Linked DNA regions of Homo sapiens. The protein of the gene in region 3 interacts with the protein of the main gene of each other region in a biochemical or structural test. Each region holds a gene or a part of one and is shown on either strand. Other genes may lie near its edges.

Region 1 (7,000 bases), on a different chromosome or scaffold from region 3:
TGTTACTGCACTTCCCAGGCCCCCGTTACACTTCAACAGTCTGGTATTCTATCTCATGGGTCTGTATTTTCCAAAGTGTGGCCCACGGAACCCTGCGTCAGAATCTCCGGAGCTTTCAAGGAGGAAAGTGGGAGTTGCAAAATGCAAATTTCTCGATCCCCTTCAAGAGTGGATAGAGCAGAATCTCTAGGGGTGGGACCTGCAAAGCCTCATTTTTCTCAAGCTCCACAAAGACTGAAGTCTGAGAACCGCAGGCCTCACCCTGTGCCGAGGTGTGCTTAGCTCCCCTGCAGTCTGAGAACTTAGCTTTCCTGCAAGTCCAGAAGCTTCCCGCAGCAATGCCCCTGCCGCTGCCCCAGGCATTTGCTGTAACACATACCTGCTGGCCAGACCTGGAGAAGGGCAGCTCTTTGAAGCACCCATGTAGCCAATGGGCAGCTTGGCCAGTGACGAATAAGCACTAGTTTTCTTTTGTTGTTGTTTTGTTTTTTTGTGGTTTTTTTTTTGAGACGGAGTCTTATTCTGATGCCCAGGCTGGAGTGCAATGGCGTGATCTCGGCTCACTGCAACCTCCGCTGCATGGGATCAAGCGAGTCTCCTGCCTCAGCCTCCCGAGTAGCTGATATTACAGGTGTGCAGCACCACGCCTGGCTAATTTTTGTATTTTTAGTAGAGACTTATTTTAGTAGAGACTGGATTTTTGTATTTTCAGTAAAGATTTCTTTAGTAGAGGTTTTACCATGTTGGCCAGGCTGGTCTTGAACTCCTGACCTCAGGTGATCCACCCGCCTCGGCCTCCCAAAGTGCTGGGATTATAGGCATGAGCCACCGCACCCAGCCAGCACCAGTTTTTAGAATTTGACTTCCATGTCTTTTTTAAAAATAATGTTTTTTATAGAGACGGGGTCTGACTATGTTGCTCAGGCTGGTCTTGAACTTCTGGCCTCAAGCGATTCTCCCACCTCAACCTCCCAAAGTGCCGGGATTATAGACGTGAGCCACCGTGCCCTGCGGATTTCCATGTCTTGGATGTTCCTGAAGTAGTACGCTCTGTGGCAATAGGACAAACGAAGCCTCTTATTTTCCACATAAGGAAACAACAGATGGGGCCTCGGCCTCCAGGGCCTCCAGGCTCAGCCTCTCTGCCTCCTCAGACCTCCCATCCTCCTGCCTCCCTGACTTCAGAGACCCAGGGTGACCAGTGGGCTTGGTGGTGGTGGCTCCAAATACTTTTCATGCCTCTTATTTACAGAGTGGTCGTGGGCAAGTCACCTGACCTCCTTAAGCCTATGTCTTCATCTGAAACATAGGGAGACAGCCAGGCATGGTGGCTCATGCCTGTAATGCCATTGTCCCTGAAGTCAAGGAGAGCACACAGGATTAGAAAGCCCATCAGACAAACACAGCTGCGCAAACTGCACAGGGAAGAGAATTCGGACTGCTCCATCTTCAGGCTGCGAACCCTGTGTGAACCCTGCATTGCAGAAAAGGGTCCTCCCGGCTCTAGAAACACAAGCCAGTGAATGGCCACACACGCAAAGGGAGGCTGCTCCCAGCGAAGTAGGCTCCCGAGTACCTCTCTCAGATCTGGGCCCTGCAGGGGGTGGTCTTCTCTGGACTTGCTTAGTCGCTTAAAGAGAAAAATCCACGAAAGCCTTATTATCATCAGGCTTAAACAGGGCCTTAATGAGTCCTTCACGTGGCAGGCACCCACAGCTGGCCCAGCAGGGGCCCCATTCTGAAACAAGGTCGAGGGGCCCAAGGGGGAGGGTCTCTCCACCTGCAGGCAGCCACCGAAGAGCAGGTAAGACCCAAAGGGAAATGCATCACGTTGTTTCAGGTTGTTACAAAGTGTGAGTCCCCTGTAATCCCAGCACTTTGGGAGGCCGAGGTGGGCGGATCACTTGAGGTCAGGAGTTCGAGACTAGGCTGGCCAAAATGGTGAAACCCTGTCTTTACTAAAAATACAAAAATTAGCAGGGCGTGGTGGCCTGTGCCTGTAGTCCCAGCTACTCAGGAGGCTGAGGCAGGAAAACTGCTTGAATTTGGGAAGCAGAGGTTGCAGTATGCCAAGATTGTGCCACTGCACTTCAGCCTGGGTGACACAGTGAGACTCCGTCTCAAAAAAACAACAACAAAAAACAGAGTGTGAGTCAACTGGCCCGATGTTAAGTGAAAAAAAAACAGCAGGATCCAAACGCTACTTAAAATCCTGTCAAAATTCTGGGAATTATCCCTGGATCACATGTATATGAGAAAAACACCAGGCCAGAAAACACGAAGCGAAAAGACAAAAACAATGGGCCTTAGTGAATGGCCATCCTTGGGGGTGCCACTGCACGGCATGTGTGCGAGAAATGCCACCGCAAAGACACGCAGCAGGTGGTGGGCAGGCTCTGGGCAGCTCCCTCAGGCCAGGGAGAAGCAGAGTCACCAAGATCCAAGATCCAGGCCAGGCTTTGGTCACAGCCCGCAGCAAGTGCCATAGGCTGCCCGTGCCACCAAGGAGCAAGTGCAGGTCAGACACCCCTACATGGTGCAGAGTCTAAACCCAGGGGCCTGGAATACTTCACTGGGGCAATGGAAGAGAGAAGTGCTCGGGCAGGCAGGCAGGCTGTCCCTAATCCCCAAAGAGGACGACTGTTTTTTTTTTTTTTTTTTTGAGAAGGAATCTCACTTTTGTCATCCAGGCTGGAGTGCAATGGTGCGATCTCAGCTCACTGCAACCTCTGCCTCCTGGGTTCAAGTGATTCTCCTTCCTCACCCTCCTGAGAAGCTGGGATTACAGGCGCCCGCCACCACGCCCAGCTAATTATTTTGTATTTTTATTAGAGACGGGGTTTTGCCATGTTGGCCAAGCTGGTCTCGAACTCCTGACCTCAGGTGATCCGCCCACCTTGGCCTCCCAAAGTGCTGGGATTACAGGCATGAGCCACCACGCCCAGCCGCGACTGTTCTTAATAGCACTCCTGGCTGCAAAATAACTCAATGGATGCCTTACTGGGTACTCAAAATTGACTGGGTTTTACTCACAGGAGCCCAGGGCAACGGGCCCAGCCTGTGACTGCTCAGCTAAGACCCTCAGGTTTTGCAGCAGACTCCTAACGTCCCTAGCAAGTTAAGCTGCCCAGGGGTTGAGCCCTGAGTGACGTCACCCATTGTGACTTATCCAGGCTGCTGCTCTGTCTCCAGAGACATTTGTCTCCAGAGTCTCATTTGGGGACTGAAAACATGCCATGCTGGGGCTGCCTCTATGGAACCCTGGACTTGGGGCCAGAGAGGCTCCGAGAGCTGCCACTTAGTAGTCATGTGACTGCATTTTCCTCGGGTTTAAAATGAGCTGGTTAGACTCAGTCAAGCAAACTCTCAGAGGCTCGATTTCTTTCTTTTTTTTCCTTTTTCTGTATTTTTTTTTATCATGCTGCAGAATCAGCCTCAATTTCTTCATTGATAAAAAGTGAGGATTCAGGCTGGGAGTGGTGGCTCATGCCTGTAATCCCAGCACTTTGGGAGGCCGAGGCAGGTGGATCACCTGAGGTCAGGCGTTCGAGACCAGCCTGGCCAACATGGTGAAACCCTGTCTCTACTAAAAATACAAAAAATTAGCCGGGCATAGTGGCAGGTGCCTGTAATCCCAGCTACTAGGGAGGCTGAGGTAGGAGAATCGCTTGAACCTGGGAGGTGGAGGATGCAGTGAGCTGAGATCACACCACTGCACTCCGGCCTGGATAACAAAAGCGAAACTCTGTCTCAAAAGAAAAAAAAAAAAAAAGGTAGGGATTCAACATTTGCCTCAGAAATCAAAAGGACTGAGAAGGCAATGAAGACTCCAGTGCTTAGTAAACTGCAAGCTGCTGACCAGCTGCCAGGGGTTATTCATTCTCAGTGGCCTAAGGCCTCCTAAAATGAAGGCTGTACCTCTGAGAGCTTCAGCTTCCTCTAAGATTCAAGAGAACGTTCTTCTTACCAGAGCTGGGTGGTGTCTTTGGAGCGGGCGGGGTTTTTGCTGGAATCCTGGTGGCGTTGGCCTGGCCCTTCTGGCCTGGAGGGGCTGCTCCCCGCGGTGTGGCGATCTTCGTTTTACCATCAGCCCCCTGTAAATGAAACATGATAGAGGGGTTTTTCACCATTGGGAAAAGTTACTGCCACCAAGAGTCAACACCAGCCCCACTCCGCCACCTTGACTCAAAACGTGGCTAAGACTGGGGTGACCCTTTGCCTCCTAGATGCCACTAGTGTCTGCTACAACCACAAGGGCTTGCTGGGCACACAAACCCACATCCCCACCCAAACTCCAAGTTCCCTGAGGACATTTCCTCCCAGAGGAACTGTGTGCATTAGTTATCAGCATGAGTTGTGCCAAGGCCAGCAGAGCTCACAGCAATGATCAGGTCACTCTCCACTCCATGTCAATCATCGGCAGGACATTAGTGCACTACACATATGCAGACATCCATTTTCTGACTCTAATTATGGATTTATTTGGCTGATGGTGGTTGGCTCCACCAGAGGCCCCTGGGGGCAGTGTTGAACCTGACCAAGGATGCTAAAGAGAGCTAGGTCGTGTTCTTTCATTCTCTCGCAAACAACCCTAAGGCCTCAAGAACTCCTTGGGTGTGCTCAGACCAGGCGAGCACCCGAGGAGGCGAGCACCAGCATCACTGACAAAGCTGGCAGAGTCGGGCATGGCACAGTCTAGGGACTAGGGCAGTCCCTGGGTTCCGTTACCCAGCAGATGACCCTTAGACATAACACAAACTCAAAAAAGAAACTGACATTAACCAAGGACCACAAGCTAGTTGAGGGGGCAGTGAGCTCACGGGGCAGTGTTGCTATGGCGTGATGCTGTCCTACCCAGATCAGGGCAATCTGGAAGCATTTCTCTTGCCAAAATCAGGAATGGGCAAAGGAACCCAATGAGAGTAGCAATTTTGGGTTTGTTTTTTAAACAATTTTTGCGACAGGGTCTTGCTCTGTCGCCCAAGCTGGAGCTAACTACAACCTCTGCCTCTGGGGTTCAAGCAATCCTTGTGCCTCAGCCTCCCGAGTAGCTGCGATTACCACCACGCATACCACCACGCCCGGCTAATTTTTGTATTTTTAGTAGAGACAGGGTTTTGCCATGTTAGCCAGGCTGGTCTCGAACTCCTGATCTCAGGTGATCCACCCTCCTCGGCCTCCTAAAGAGCTGGGATTACAGGTGTGAGCCACCGTGCCCAGCCTTAGAGTAGCGATTTCGAAACCAAGGTCCCACCAGGTGTCTTAGGAGCTGCTGCTATGAGAGCCTGTGGGGTGCTGAGAGGGATGGCCCCCAGCTCTCTTTTCCCCTTTGCCCAGAATTCTAACTATTTTACACGGTGCTTCTATGCCAGAACTCATTTGAAGAAAGGTCTTTGAGGCTAAAAAACAAATAAACAAACCCCACATTTGCAAACCACAGCAGAGCAGCCTGGTTCTTTTCAAAGGTGGTTTCCTTACCTTGAGTTTCATCTCCTTTGCTCCAGAACTGCCAGTTCGGGAAGTGACAGAAGAGACGTATTTAGGAGAGGAAGGTGGCTCTGGGCACACAGCAGGGCTGGAGGGTTGGATCAGAGGGTCTGAGCTACCAGGAGTGGGGTGTTTGGGGCTAAGGCAAGGCCTATTTTTCAAGGTTTTAGCAGAGGAACGTGTGGATGTCTTAAACATAAACATAAATAAAATCAAAATAAAAGTCAGCACATGGAGGAGGGAAACAAACTGAAAAAAGGACAGTAACTAAAAATAAATAAGGCAGGTAATGGTTGAAAGCAGTGATCTCCAGGCTGTTTGAATCAGGTACCCTTAATATCCCTTCTGATCAGTAAGAACAGGAAAGTGACCGTCCTCCCCAATCACAGTTCTTTTTCTTTTTCTTTTTCTTTTTTGAGACGGAGTCTCGCTCTGTCGCCCAGGCTGGACTGCAGTGGTGCAATCTCGGCTCACTGCAAGCTCTGCCTCCTGGGTTCACGCCATTCTCCTGCCTCAGCCTCCCGAGTAGCTGGGACTACAGGCGCCCACCACCACGCCCGGCTCGTTTTTTTGTATTTTTAGTAGAGATGGGGTTTCACTGTGTTAGCCAGGATGGTCTCGATCTCCTGACCTCGTGATCCACCCGTCTCGGCCTCCCAAAGTGCTGGGATTACAGGCGTGAGCCACCGCGCCTGGCCCTGACAAAGCTTTTAGAAGAGGACATGAAAAAGGAATGGAAGTTCTAGTACGTTCTTTCTCCAGCCTGTTGGATGTTACTGTGCCCCTGAATTTGGAGACGACTGGTTTAAAGGTGCTTCACATGAGTAAGTTGATGGAGATCATCAAGGTACATGAATCTTAGGATGTTACTCAAGAAAATGTCCCCAAGTGTGTCACGGGGTCTGAAGGGCCTTACTTTCTACTCAATTCCAGGCAAGGTGCTTTTTTACCTGCCCATTAACCCATGGCCTCTTCCACCACACTGACAGACTCATATGGCTACAATCAGGAGTGTGCCCCCCCCAAGTTGGAAAGATTCTACCTGACTTAGGTTACACCCACCCCCACCACACATGTGCTTTCTGATTAAAGTCTCAAATCAAACTAATATTAACACTATCTGGTGAATCCTAATCTGGCCAATGTTAACTCTTTTGTTTGTTTGTTTGTTTGTTTGTTTTAGAGACAGGGTCTCCCTCTGTTGCCCTGGCTGGAGTGCAGTGGTGCCATCACGGCTCACTGCAGCCTCCACCCTTTGGGTTCAAGTGATCCTCCCACCTCTGCCTGGCCAATTAAATTTTTTTTTTGAGATGGGGTCTTGCTATGTTGCCCAGGCTGGTCTAGAACTCTTGGGCTGGGGACATCCTCCCACCTTAGCCTCCCAAAGTGCTGGGATTACAGGCATGAGCCACTGTGCCAAGCCTCCAATGTTATCTCTTTTTCTTTTTTTTTCAGTTTGTCAGTGTAAACAACACTGCTTACTTTTGAACCCATTCCACAAGAGGAAGCAGCC
Region 2 (7,000 bases), on a different chromosome or scaffold from region 3:
TACAGATCACTGGAGCATAACTATAGTAACTCAATAAGGTAAAAGGAATTACTAACTAATGTACCAAGAGGTTTAAGTGAGCAAATCAAAATTGGTATAAATTTGGGTGAAAAACTAAAGCAATGGAGGTTCCAGCATTTTAGAGATGGGTGGCAGTAACAATTCTCTGTATTGGAAATCCACTTTCCTAGGGCAATTGGCCAGGAAATTTAAAAACATCTCATTTATATTGTAAATAAATTTACACAGGAAAAACTCTTTTTGCAGCAGCCCAGATGATTGTAAATGAAAGCCCAAAAAGTCAACTGATGACTGGAAATTAGCATGGGTTACCGGTGGTAGATGGCCCTGTTCTGCAACTGCGTCGGTGACACTGCATGACCTCAACCTTGAGGAGGGTTCTCTTTGCTGGAAGGAGAGGAAAAGACAGGAAGCATCAAGAAATATATTCTTAAAAGCAACTTTCATTGGTTTAACAAACATATCACTCAACCATATTCACCGCTCTTCGATATTAGAAGGTAATTAAATGAAACATCTTTTCAGAGCAAGGACAGTCATCCTTGAAAAAGTTATCTTTCACTTTAATTTTCAGTTAAGCAGACTGGAATTTTGATTGGTCCTTAGAATTAGTGGCAAAAGTAAGAGGAGACCAAAACTTTCAGAAAGGAGACTCAACAGGACTCTGCAACACTCTAATGCTGCTTTACAAACAGAAAGAAGCTAGCAGTCTTGTAGTTTGCTCTAAGATGCACCCTCAGGGTAAATTTTAATGTGATGTGAATAGACGGAAGAAATAGTGATATGTGGCTACCCAACATTTATTGATTACTACAATTGAAAAAGAGTCAGTTGCATCCTATATTCAGAGGAGCTCAGACATCATCTTGGCCTACTTCTGAAAGATCTGGTATTTATAATTTTAGCTGCTTTTTTTTTTTTTTTTTAAATATAGAGTCTTGTTCTATTGCTCAGGCTGGAGTGCAGTGGCATGATCTCAGTTCACTGCAACCTCTGCCTCCCAGGTTCCAGTGATTCTCCTGTCTCAGCCTCCTGAGTAGCTGGGACTACAAGCCCCCCCCACCACACTTGGCTAATTTTTTGTATTTTTAGTAGAGATGGGGTTTCACCATATTGGTCAGGCTGGTCTCGACCTCCTGACCTCAGATGATTCACCCACCTCGGCCTCCCAAAGTACTGGGATTACAGGTGTGAGCCTCCATGCTCAGCCAATTTTAGCTTCTAAGTGGACTTCAAGTAGTAAAGACAGGAATGATTAAAAATAGTGAGATCAAGCTAAAAAAAAAGATCTACTGTGTAGTGTCTTAATATTCCTCTAACTTGTTTGTATTAGTCTATGTGGTTAAATGAAGCCTAATTGATATGAATGAAGATTAGCAGCAGGTCACACACAGAAGCCAGAGTCTCCTTATCGGCAAGTTCATCCATAGTATCAGTTTCTAGTATTTACTCATTTTTAATATTTTGTGATAAGTAAATGGTACAAGAAGACTCTGTGGTAGGGATGGGGGACAATTCACATCTTCCCACATTGGTTACTGTGAAAGAATCAGTCTTTAATAAAAGTGTCACTCTGTTGCTCAGGCTGGAGTGCAGTGGCGCAATCGTGGCTCACTGCAACCTCTGCCTCCTGGGTTCAAGAAATTTTTGGGCCTTGGCCTCCTGAGTAACTGGAACTACAGGTGCACCCCACCACACCCGGCTAAGTTTTGCATTTTTAGTAGAGACGGGGTTTCACCATGTTGGCCAGGCTGGTCTTGAACTCCTGACCTCAGGTGATCCGCCTGCTTCAGCCTCTCAAAGTGCTGGGATTATAAGCATTAGCCACCGTGCCCAGCCAAAGCTCATGTTCTTCCCCTTGAATACAGGGTAATCCCAATGAGCAAATATCCGATTTGACTCTCATTTAACAGTGAACACGATGTGAAATAATACAACATTGTATTTGGGTCTTAATGATATTTCACAGATCTAGAATAATTAAATTCAGGAGCTCCTCATTTAAATAATTAGAATTGCTAACTTATGATTATTGCTGAAAAAAATTACAGTGTTTACTTGGTTTACTAAAGGTGTGTTACTGCCATGGATTCTGTGGTACCTCCTTGCTTTTATAGGTTTTAAATACAAGGCTTCATTGTTTATGTTGTTTCTATAACAACAGTTTTATCAGTTCAAATATCCCATATATATGCAATTTCTTTTATCCTGTCCATTTAGTACTACATTTTCATCTTGGCGACACATCTCTTTTTGAAAAAGTCACAGAATTTCAAAGTGAAATCACATTAACTGAATGATAAATGCAACTCATGTAATAGAGGCGTATACTGTCTTTTAAAATAAAAACACCATAACCAAAAAGTAACAATTTTGTGAGTACTTACTTGCTTTTACATTGTATGCAGTGCTATCATTTATGTTTGTTATGGTCATAGTAATGACTATTTTTTTTTAGGATGCCATTTTCAGTGGAGTGACTATCATCATTTACTATTGTACATTTTTAAGTTCAGTTTCTTGAGAAACACTGAGACTTCATTTGCTCTTAATTCTATGCACAAGCAGGGATTTTCTATGGGTTATTTCTGCACAGTTTTGTATTGTCAAACATGGAAGTCTTTGTGACTGATTCCATTGGGCTCAGGCATTGGGCCCATCTGAAGCTTCTAGAAAGTATGTTTCTGATGGTTGAGAGCCCAAGTTAAAATGCTACCTTGATGACAGTGTCACAATTTCACAACATTTCTCAAGGGTTCATACTCTGGGACTTAGGAGACGTCTTCTATCTCCCACTCAAACCTTGTCTTGGATGAGCCACTTAAGCATTGTGCCCTTATCAGCGAAATGAGAATGATAAATCCTGCAGAATATGACTTAAGAGGACTGATTAGGCCTGATGGCTTTTAATTGTTACTGTGAAATACTACCTTTGTGATAAAGGTACTATTTTCATGAGCCTTTTGGCTGGGAAAGGAATTCTACAAGGTTAAAGCTAATAATTACAGACATCATGGAGTTTTACTTCTTTGAGTTCTTTATAAACCAAGAAAGTGTTAGTGGTATAAGGGTGAGCAAAGCTGCCTTCCAAATCAAGAAAGATTCTCACCTGCTTGGGCTAATTTTAGTACAGTCCTGCTTCTCCTAGGGAAGGAGGAACTTTGGAAAATGTCAGAGTTAGCTGGGAGCTGGAAGACCCTTGGTCACTATTTACGTAAGAGATTCTCCTTAAGCAACAAAAAACAATAAAACATTGCTCAGCTTTTCTTTCAAACAAGGCCACTACTTACAATCAAAGAGCTGAACTGTTCCCCATTGGAGTCTGGAGTGATCTGAAGCCTTCTGCTTAGTTCCTCTGACAGCTCCTGAGGGCTGGTCCGAGATCCTGGGGAGGCCGGTGGTGGGGGCAGAGCCAGACCGAGAGAGTCTCCAGCGATATTCACTTCCTCTGAAATGGTCTCCCAAGGCTTTCAGAGAAGGAGACACTGGGGTAAACACTAGAAAGAAGTAGGGATCCACCCAGCTCCCCAATGAAACCATGTAACAACAATAGCCCCGGTGATAACTATAATTAACACCTACTAAGTGCCTCTCATGAGGCACACAACCTTCACAATAATCACGAGGAAGATAACTCCCCCAATTAACAGATGAGGAAACTGAGGCACAGAAAATAACCTGCCCAAGGTAACATCTAGCAAGTGGTAGGGCCATGATGTGAATCAAAGAGGCCTGGTTCCAGACAGAGGCTGTGCTCTTAACCACTTTATAACAATGCCTCTCTGAACAGTGACTGATTTCCAGCACTTGTTACTATATGTGTGGGCAAAAAAACAAACACACACACACACTTCTCTGGAGTTTATAAACAATTGTCATGGATTTTCTTTTACTTTTAACCACTGAGGATTCACCGTGGGAGCAGCATAGAAGCTATACGCTGTAATTAAACAATGGTATAAAATAACTTAGAGTGAATGTGTTATGGAATCATTACTTTTGCTTTTCCAAGTTGAATCGCCGCATTCTAAATGATCTTCCTAACACAATGTCTAAGAAGAATGGATTTTTAGTACATAAACAGAGCTGGTAAGATAGCATGGAAGATTATGGCTAATTTGTTGTTTAATTCATAACGTTTTAAGTAACATACCATAACTATTTAAAGGGAAAATTACACATTTCTGTTCACCTAAATTTATATTTTCATGGTAATAAATCTCTTCCAAGTGTCAAAGCGACTCAATAAAAATATGCATATGATACCCAAACAAGTTACAGGGCTCATTCAACAGCTCAACTATGATAAAAACAAGCTGTCATTTAATGAGACATGGTTAGACCCCTGTGAAAAATAAATTACAAACTAAAAATATCTTAAGATTTTCATACTGAAAAATAATGTGGGCTGGACACAGTGGCTCACGCCTGTAATCTAAGCACTTTGGGAGGCCAAGGCAGGTGGATCATGAGGTCAAGAGTTCAAGACCAGCCTGGCCAACATGGTGAAACCCGTCTCTACTAGGAAAAAAAAAAAAAAAAAAAATTAGCCATTGTGATGGCATGCACCTATAACCCCAGCACTTTAGGAGGCTGAGGCAGCAGGCGGATCTCGAGGTCAGGAGATTGAGACCATCCTAGCCAACATGGTGAAACCCCATTTCTACTAAAAATACAAAAACTGGCCGGGTGTGGTGATGCGTGCCTGTAATCCCAGCTACTCAGGAGGCTGAGGCAGGAGAATTGCTCGAACCCAGGAGGCGGAGGTTGCAGTGAGCCAAGACTGCACCACTGCACTCTAGCCTGGGCGACAGAGCAAGACACTGTCTTCAAAAAAAATAAAAATAAAAATAATGTTATTCCCATTTCTATAATATAGAGCCACCTATACTTGTCAAATACGGCTTTTATAGGCACTTTCAAATTAATATTCAGATGGTAATTAATTCCCTGCGTCACTGTAATCTTTACATTCTCAACAATGTTTACTGACAGAAGAAATTATGATATAAAATCAAGCTGGAGAACATGGGAAGAAGGAGCTGCCGGGCTTTGCACCATTCTGGGGACATCGTACCTCGGGGACATCCCCGCCCTCCGAGGGCTCGGGCTCCAAGTCTTCGCTGATGTGCCTGCGGGAGCGGAAGCGCCGGTGTGCTGCCTCCTGGTTGATCTGTCTGATGTTATTGTCCGACTCCGAGGACACGTCCCTGAGCATGCAGGAAAGGGGGAAAGAGAAGAAGAGAAGTGGTTGAGATCGGGCCCTTCATGACAGTTCAATGCTCACGGAGGGCCAGATGGCCACTAAAGTGTCAGCGTCAAACACTGACAACTAGCTGGTCATCCAATGTGAGAATTCTCCCACCATATTACGGCTAAAGTATAGGTTAAGGTTCATTTCAATCAAATAAATGCAGTTTTAAAATGCATTAGTCACACCATTTTGAGCATCTTTCAGGCATACATTTCAAAATATACCTCAGTGTTTAATAAAAAACAGAAATCAAAGTCCTCTGCCCATTTGCCACAGTGACAAGTCAGACCTCTGGAAGCAGAGGTGACAGGCAAGTTCACACAGCAGCTGGGCAGTCCCAATCCTTCTAGAAGTCCAGCAATGACAAGGCAGCTACTTCTGGTCACCAGCAATTTGACCAAAGACTACAAAAGGGACAAATTCAAAGCTGTCATCTGGAGGAAAGTACACCTGATCCAACATGAATTTTTTTCAGCTGCTTTCTAGCTCATTTTAACAGAATCTCAAAATCGTGACACTGCATTTACCTCCTTTACCCTACTTTAAAAATCCTAATAACATCAGGAGATAACCTCTCAAGTCAGCCGGGGTCTGAAGAACACCAAAACATCATACCCTATTTTTTGTCATGTGATGTTCTCAATTCAGGATCTAAAAGTTTTGATTCAATTTGGAAGACTTTTTTGGGCTGGGCATGGTGGCTCATGCCTGTAATCCCAGCACTTTGGGAGGCCAAGGCGGGCGGATCACTTGAGGTCAGGAGCTCAAGACGTACCTGGCCAACATGGCAAAACCCCGCCTCTACTAAAAACACAAAAATTAGCCGAGTGTGGTGATGCGTGCCTGTAGTCCCAGCTACTCAGGAGGCTGAGGCAGGAGAATCACTTGAGCCCAGGAGGCAGAGGTTGCAGTGAGCTGAGAGATCATGTCACTGTACTCTAGCCAGGGCAGCAGAGTGAGACTCCATCTCAAAACAAAACAAAACAAAAAAAAAAAGAAAAAAGAAAACTTTTTTTTTTGCAGTAAATTATAGGCAATCATACTTTGGGGGAAATACTAGTCAGAGGCTTTTAGTGTACAAGTTTAAATGCCAAAAATTTTTTCAGGGAAAACTCTCACAGATACTTTCAATAAGATAACATATCCCATTAACAAAAATTATGTCACAAGTCAGTATCTCAAAAGTTGAAATCGTCATTTCAGACTAACTGAAATATAGTACTTATCAAGAACACTCATTATAGACTCTTTCTAAAACACAAATTTTAAAGTTTTCTCACACATTCTGAAATGAACTTATACTGTATCCCAATAAAGGGCCTGCTAGCAGAGGTTGTGGTGGAAACTCTTTTTCCTTAACTAACTTTCCTCTTGCCTTCTAGAAGTTATGCCCATTGGAAGGAGGCGCTCCTCAGGTTCTGCCAAGTTCTGCTGTGTCCTTCCTGGCTCAGCCTCTCCCTTTGGCATTGCTGCCTCCTTGATGGGGCAGTTATGCCTCTGCCTTCTCCCAAAACTACATGTGAGCCCGAACTTGGATTAAGAACTGCATTTTTCAGCCGGGCGTGGTGGGTCATACCTGTAATCCTAGCACTTTGGGAGGCTGAGGTGGGCGGATCACCTGAGGTCAGGAGTTTGAAACCAGCTTGACCAAGCCAGTGAAACCCCATCTTCACAAAAATACAAACATTAGCTGGGCATGGCGGCGGGCGCCTGTAATCCCAGCTA
Region 3 (7,184 bases):
GTAACTAAGTCAAAGAAACTTGTGCTTGCAGAACTTGGAAATCTGAGGACAAACGGAAAGATATTGATAAACTGCATGTCACTGATTCAGTATTCCAAATTCCATCTAAAAAGGTATAATTCACACTTCATAAAATATTTAAAATTAACTCATCAATTTTTTCCTCTTGTAACACCCTATTTCAATGACTTTCTGAAAATATGTTTTAAGGTAGAAAAAAAGTAATTTAATTGAAGATTTGTGGGAAGATTAAGTCAACATAAGAAAAGTCTAAATAATGAGGCAGTGGCACATGCCTATAATCCTGGCTACTCAGGAGGCTGAGGTGGGGGCATGACTTGAGCCCAGGAATTCAAGGATGCAGTGAGCTATGATAGCATCACTGCAGTCCAGCCTGGGCGACAGAGCAAGGCCCTGACTCTAAAAACTGAAAATAAAAAACTGAAAAAAAAATGTGTTGTGAACTTTGATGAGATGCATTCATATAAATCATCCCAAGTATAAAATTTCCCCCACTGATCTATGTTGAAGAGATAGTGTAGCTTTCTTTCACTTTGCAGACATAGACGGAGCACATGTTTCAGCTAGGCAACTCAATGTGGTCATCCTCCACCTGACTGTTCATCCTGTGACTCTTACTGCTATAGTTGCCACCAGAGAATGTGAAAAAGCTCAGAGGAGAAAGAAGAGAGGAAGAATGGGCAATGTGTCTGTGTTGAGTGTGTGTGTCTATGCCTGTGGATGAGAGTGTGTGTCTATTCTTTTCCAAGGAATTCAAAGTGGTTTGTAAAATAACACTCAATTGAATACAGTTCAAGTTACAGAAAAGAGAGTCAGAGTTTGGGTGTATACCCCAAGGTGGAACTTTAGGAACAAGTAGGTAATAAGCATCAATTTCTTTATTCTTTTAGTATGTGTGTCATTTGATGGATGAACTATACAAATGTTTCTGAGAGATTAGTAGCAGCCCTCAAGCACTTTTCTCTGTCCTCAGTGTTCACAGAGACCAAATGATCACATGAAGTAACTCTATCAAAGACTAATCTGTTCTTTCCATTTTAGGGCCACAAATAGGTCTCTTTATACACATCACAGGGGCATATCAAAGTCATATTTTAAAAATCAGAATGGATTAAAATTGACAAACATTTTTCATGATGGTAAAAGAAATCACAGATCCATCAATGATTTTGATTCTTAAGAATATTCTTGATTATTTTTTAAAAGACTATGAGTTTTTAAAACTGTTCTCTGAAATAGAATTATGTAGGTACAGAAACATTCATTTTTAAAAAGTCATAAATATTAGGGCAAAATTAAAAATCTGGAAAAGCAAACAGTCGCATTTTTTACTATTAGCTCAAATACACACGTTCACATTCACCTACCTACACATACCTCTGACTCAGTCCACCTTTTTGACAAGCAATGATGCAAAAATGAATCAAGAGAGAGAACTACCAGCATTTAGAGTATTGATTATCCTAACCCATCACTCATGAACAAGCACCAAACTGACATTTGGGGTTTACCTACCTACATAGAGAACACCCTCTTTTGTCTTTCCTGCTGCTTCTGCCACACCCTGTTTGGTTTTCTCAGCAGCAGCCACAACTCCCTCCTTGGCCTTTGAAAGTCCTTTCATGAATACATCCATGGCTAATGAATTCCTTTACACCACACTGGAAAACATAAAATACACTTTGAATGAGAACTTTCGGGGAAAAATAAACAAAAAACACTGAAAAATCATGAGAAACCCTCCAAAGTGTGAGACTCTTTTAAGTGTACACTCATTTAACCATTGGACAAAGCAGACATTTTTAGCTCTGGCATTAAAAATTTAGCATCTCCCATCCATCTTGGCTAGTAAAAGTCTAGCCACCTAACCACGGATTAGGATGAATCCTCTGAGTTGTTATTACTGCATTTCAGAAGTGGAGTTGCATGAAAAGATTAACCCCTTTTTTAAATTCCCGGGGTCTAAAGGGTAACAGTATGAGTTAGAAGCATGGAAGCTGGAGGCTTAGGGTCAGGGGTATCCTTAACATGAATCCCAGAAGAAGGCTAACAGGTTGATGGTGGAAAGGCGTAGGCAACAGAACTAACTGCTCACTCGGGGTGTGGTTCAAACTCAGGCAAACAGCAGGCCCAAGTGTGATGGTTCTAATCCATCCAACATCCACCCCCGCCCTCAGCTATCTACCCTGAGCAGGCGCCGCTCACACTCGCGGGCCGTCTCCAACCCCGCGCCAGCCACCCGAGGGGGCGTTCTCAGCCTCCACCCTAGCGGACCCCGCGCCAGCACTTGTTAACCCGTTACCACCTGTTGACTTGGCCTCCTTGCACTTCCATTTCATTATTTGCCAAACGCAGCTTGCTTACTTTACAGAGAAAAACCAAGAGAGCGGGCAGACAGATTTTATGTGAGAGAAAAGTTGGATGCTCACGCTCCATGGAGCATCCTCGCGTTTCCCGGGGAAAAGCGGATCCCGGAGAAGCAGCCTAATCTCTCAGCCCTTGTGGAGAAGGGAATATCAGAAGCAGGACGAAAGCCAGGTCAAGTCTCTTTCCTTAGGCTCCCCAAAGGGACAAGTACTCACCTCCCAGAGACCTGGCCCAGCGGGTCCTCATGGCAGCACCACCCCCTCCCGGTGCCCACGACCATTCGTCTCCCATCCGGCGTTCTCCAGGATTTCCAAAGACGCCCGTTTAGATCCACAGGTACTTACCTGAGTCCCTCTGCTTCTCCACAACTCCGACTCCTCCCCGCCTCTCTCTTTTTTTAAAAAAAAAATTTAAACAATTCCCAAATAATATTTAATAGGAAAGAAGAAGGAAAAGGAGCGCACAGGAAGGGCGGAGGCGGCACCCGGGGGGGACTGTCCCCAGAGGAGGCCGCTGTGAGCCGGCGACGCGAGGCTGGGGGAGTGGGAGGCAAACCCGCTAACCTGTCGTCGAATGGCCACTCCCAGTTCTCCGCTCACGAGGGTGGAAAGGCAGAAGGCTTGAAGGCAAGGCGTGAGGGAGCGCCCAGGACGCTCTCGGAGGGGCCGGGCCGGGGTCTGCGCTGCAGCCCGCACGCACCTCACTTCCGCGTCGCGGCGCTCGGTCGCTCGCCCCCTCTCTTGGGCCCCTTCTGGTCGTCGCCGTCCTCCTCCTCCTAGTCCTCCTCCTTCTCCTTCTCCTCGGCTCTCCGCCCCCACCGCTGATTTGTCAGCGCTTCTGCCCGCCCCTCTCCCGGCGCTCGCTGCTTTCCCTGCAGCGTGCTCCTCGTCCCTATCTCGGATGGGGATGGGGCAGGGGGCGCGGGGTGAGCCATCAACTCCAGCCGCCTGCCTGGCCGCGCAAGGCGGGAAAGTGGGGGCGCTTTTGCGCCTCACGTTAAGTTTAGGGTCACGAGCACTCTTGTGGAGATCGGGAGCGGTTGGGCTAGGGATGATGCCTCTTCCTCTTTCCCCTTCCCCTCCCTTCTTGTCCCCGCCTTTCCTCTGGGTCCTCCCGGGGACCACCCCCTACCCCTCGTCAGAGTCGCCCTGGGAGAGCCGAGGGCCTGAGGGTCGACCACCAAGGGCAGAGCCTATCCCTTGGGGAGCTGCTGGAGGAGACAGGCAGCGCCGGGAGGTGGCTCACACCGCACCGCCGAGAGCGCTTTGCCCTCGCATCGCTGAAATTTAATCACGGTCACAGGTTACAACGTTAGGGGTCGCTTTAGTTCAAATATCTTCAAGGTTTTCGTTTGCTCTTAATCTAGGAAGAGCCGGAAAGGGTCCTGAGGGTGAAAGGGAGACTACTAAGGAAGAGTCACAGGTTGAGGAGGCAGGAGAAGGCTCAGCAAATCCTCTTTCCACGCCACTATCACCATTTTCCTTTCCACCAATCAGCGCCTGCCAGACGCTGATTTTCCCATCAGTGGAACAAGGAATAAATATTCCCCAGCCGTCTAAAACAAGCGGTCCTAAGGCTTTTCGCTCTAGAAATGGGACTTACTTTGCAGACCTCCCTTTATCTGGGAGACAAATCCAGCGTGATTTAGCCTACCGGACCATCATATCCAATTTCTTCTTCAGCCCCTTCTGAAAGGGAGATGCTACACACCACTCACCTTTCTGACTTCTGATTCTCGTTGCCCTCAGAATTGACACCCCCTTTTCTCTCCCCCCACCCACCACACGCACATGCACACAGACATACACACGCGAACTTCAAGACAATTTTTGCATCGCTTAACACATTTTCACCTCTTTCAGAGCTGGAAGACAGCTGTTCCTGGATCACACCAGAATGGAGAAGCAAGCTCCTCCCACTAGCAGAAAGCCTTTGCTTTCTGTGCCTGGATTCGGAAGATTAGTTAAGCACTGGAAGAGGAGGGGGGAAACAACAACTCGTTTTTGCTGTATGTTTTTTTTTTAATTGTTTTTATATTTATAGAAAGTTATGCTTTGTCTGATTCTTGCGCTAATTTGGGTTCTGAAATTTGAGTAAAATCAAATTTAAACATACAAAACAACTTTAAAACCACAAGGAACAGGAAGCAAATGATTATACATAAAAGACATATAGAAGATAATGCATATGTGTTCAGTGGAAAATAGAAAAGCATGAAAGTAAGATCACAAATATTTATTATTTAAACTCTTCCTTGAACTATTGGTCTGCCCTTTGGAAAAGCAGACTTTCCTTAATGCAGTAGCTCATATTAATATTTTTTGTTTGCTTAGGACCAGAGCAAGAAGGTTGGACTTGGGAGCTAGTTTGCTGTCTGGCTTTGAGACCTTGAACAAGTTTTGTTCTCCTTCTGTTTCCAGTTTTCTTTTTTGTAAATTAGGAGATTAACTCATGTGATCACTCTATTTTCAACTTTTTGTTATGGGAAATATTCAAACATATGCAAAAGTAGACAGAATAAAGGACTCTCATGTGAAGATCATCCAACTTTTACATTTTTTCAATGCATGGCTGATCATGTCTCATCCATAAGTCCACTCACTTTATCACTACCAATCCTCCCTCTTTTTTTTTTTTTTTTACCAAATTCAAGCTTTATATATATCTTTTCAGCTGTAAACATTCAGTATGCATCCACAAAATTTAAGGACTGTTTAAAAATAACCACAATATCATTAGATGATTCTTTAAAATTGCAGTGTAATTTACACCTAGGGAAATGCTCAGATGTTGTGTCCCTTTAAATCAGTTTTGAAAAAGCCATGCATTAGTGTAACCCACACTATTTTGAAGACACAGGACATTTTCATCATTCCAGACAGTTACCTTGTACCTTCATGTGCATATTCTAGAATGTCATAAAGATCTAATCACGTAGTATAAACTTTGTTTTATATTTGTCTGACTTCTTTTACTCAGTATAATATTTGTGAGGTTCGTTCATGTCGTTGCATGAATGGGTGTTTTGTTTTTTATTGCTTTTTGTTGTTTCTTTTTACTACTGTTAATAGTATAAGTTTTCCATTGTGCCTCTTTACAACTAGTATCTCAATAGAGTATTACAACAATTATTTAATATATTATTTCACATGACATATTTATAGTATAACCATGACCTCCTTGAGACCTAGTGCTTTAAGTCAAAGAGGTAAATAAAATGAGATATTTTAGGTCTCATTACAACAGACCAATGTGAGAGAATTATTTCTGGACAGTTGCACTTCTTATAAACGTTTAACATGATTCCAAACTTTTATTTGGTAATTTGTTAGTCCTTTGGCAAAGGACTAATGTACTATGTTATTTAGTCATAACAAGCAGATCAATTACATTTTATGTAACTTTTATAGACAGAGAAACTGAGCTCCAAGAGTTTTGGTGATATGCTGAGATCACCTAGCTATTTTAAGTGGCAGAGCTGAGACAATTTAGCAGAAACTGTTACAGAAGGCACAATTGTCTCCTGAATTAGCAGTTTGTGTCTGAAGCCTCACAGATTGGGTGTGGTAAAGAGTGAGAAGGAAAAAGGTAGAACCCAGCTGTGTTAGAAATAGCCTTCAAATTTGGATGTGACAATGGAAATCAAGAAGAACTTATGTTATTATGAAACAGTTCATTCATATTTAAAGTTTTGCCTTTTCTATATTGGTATTCCTCAATAGGGGGAGATGATTTCTTACTACCTACAAAAAAAGAAAACTGTAAACTAATTTCGTTGTCATTTTGAATTACAACTATATGTTTAACTCTTGTCACTCCTTAAAATGCCTTGAACACAGTAAACATCCAATGAACTTTTAATTACACATAATATTGATAGTGATATTGCATATGTTCTAGGTCTGTATTCTTAAGGAGGGAAAGCTGCTCAAGTACAAAGAAGGGAACTAGAAGTTAAAATAAAGTTTTTTTAATTTTTCTTTTCATTATTGATGGACAGCATGGTCTTCAGTAAATCTTTAGCCTCTCTGAATATAACGTTAAACTAATTGAATGGCTTGTACCTCATAAGAAATATGAAGTTATGAAGTAATAACATATTTGGAAGCATTACTAACATGCATATTCTGTTCATAACTACAATATTCATGTTTTGTTTTCTCTTTGCTAAGTGAAATATAAATATTTTACCAGACCATAATAGGATTCTTTTATCTGGATTTAATTCATTAATTTTGCTATAGATTAACATTCTATGAAATATATGCTTAACCTAGACTTTGTTTACCCCCATAGAACAACTGAATTTTTAGGTATGGTATGTGGTAAACTTGTGCTATAGCAAAGACAGCAGAGTAGAATGGCATGAAAATAAAGATGCTGCCCATTAACAATTGATTAAAGAGAGGACTGATTTAATGTGTTTAAGTTAAGAAAATACAACGTTTATTATCTTTGGATAATATTCCGTATTTGTTGTGAACACAAGGGGTGATGTAATGTTGATGCTGGAGCCACCTGCTTCTTATTCTCTATCTGCACCTTCCTCTCACCTTCTGTAAACCTGTGAGAGAGACGAGGTAGTGAGATTGCGATAGGCTTCTTGTGTAATTTCATAGTGGGTAGAGTAGAGAAAGCCTAATGCATACTGTTGGGAGATCATTATGTATGATTTTGGAAAGGGGGTGAGCATGAGATGGGGGAATAGGGTTACTCTGAAGAAATGGGAAGAGCAATCAAGGAGAAGCATAGTATTCAGATTCTCTAATTTGACCCCATGGCCAACTTCATATTGT

What was found. Proteins that work in one complex are often made in the same cells at the same time.
Region 1: the proteins of SNCA (region 3) and MAPT form a complex in vitro, tested with the Homo sapiens proteins (3 studies listed by BioGRID and IntAct).
Region 2: of the proteins of SNCA (region 3) and NEDD4L, one has a biochemical effect on the other in vitro, tested with the Homo sapiens proteins (3 studies listed by BioGRID).

The regions. Positions count from the first base shown.
Region 1 is NC_000017.11:45,988,554-45,995,553, reverse strand, and holds part of MAPT (microtubule-associated protein tau), read right to left. Parts: intron 5,677-7,000; coding exon 5,479-5,676; intron 4,095-5,478; coding exon 3,968-4,094; intron 1,631-3,967; coding exon of another isoform or gene 1,577-1,630; intron 1-1,576. UniProt on the Homo sapiens protein: Promotes microtubule assembly and stability, and might be involved in the establishment and maintenance of neuronal polarity.
Region 2 is NC_000018.10:58,327,226-58,334,225, reverse strand, and holds part of NEDD4L (E3 ubiquitin-protein ligase NEDD4-like), read right to left. Parts: intron 5,232-7,000; coding exon 5,099-5,231; intron 3,489-5,098; coding exon 3,312-3,488; intron 409-3,311; coding exon 334-408; intron 1-333. UniProt on the Homo sapiens protein: E3 ubiquitin-protein ligase that mediates the polyubiquitination of lysine and cysteine residues on target proteins and is thereby implicated in the regulation of various signaling pathways including autophagy, innate immunity or DNA repair.
Region 3 is NC_000004.12:89,834,011-89,841,194, forward strand, and holds the start of SNCA (alpha-synuclein), read right to left. Parts: upstream 3,152-7,184; 5' UTR 2,952-3,151; exon of another isoform or gene 2,733-2,951; intron 2,725-2,732; exon of another isoform or gene 2,391-2,724; intron 2,231-2,390; exon of another isoform or gene 2,117-2,230; intron 1,683-2,116; 5' UTR 1,658-1,682; coding exon 1,537-1,657; intron 1-1,536. UniProt on the Homo sapiens protein: Neuronal protein that plays several roles in synaptic activity such as regulation of synaptic vesicle trafficking and subsequent neurotransmitter release.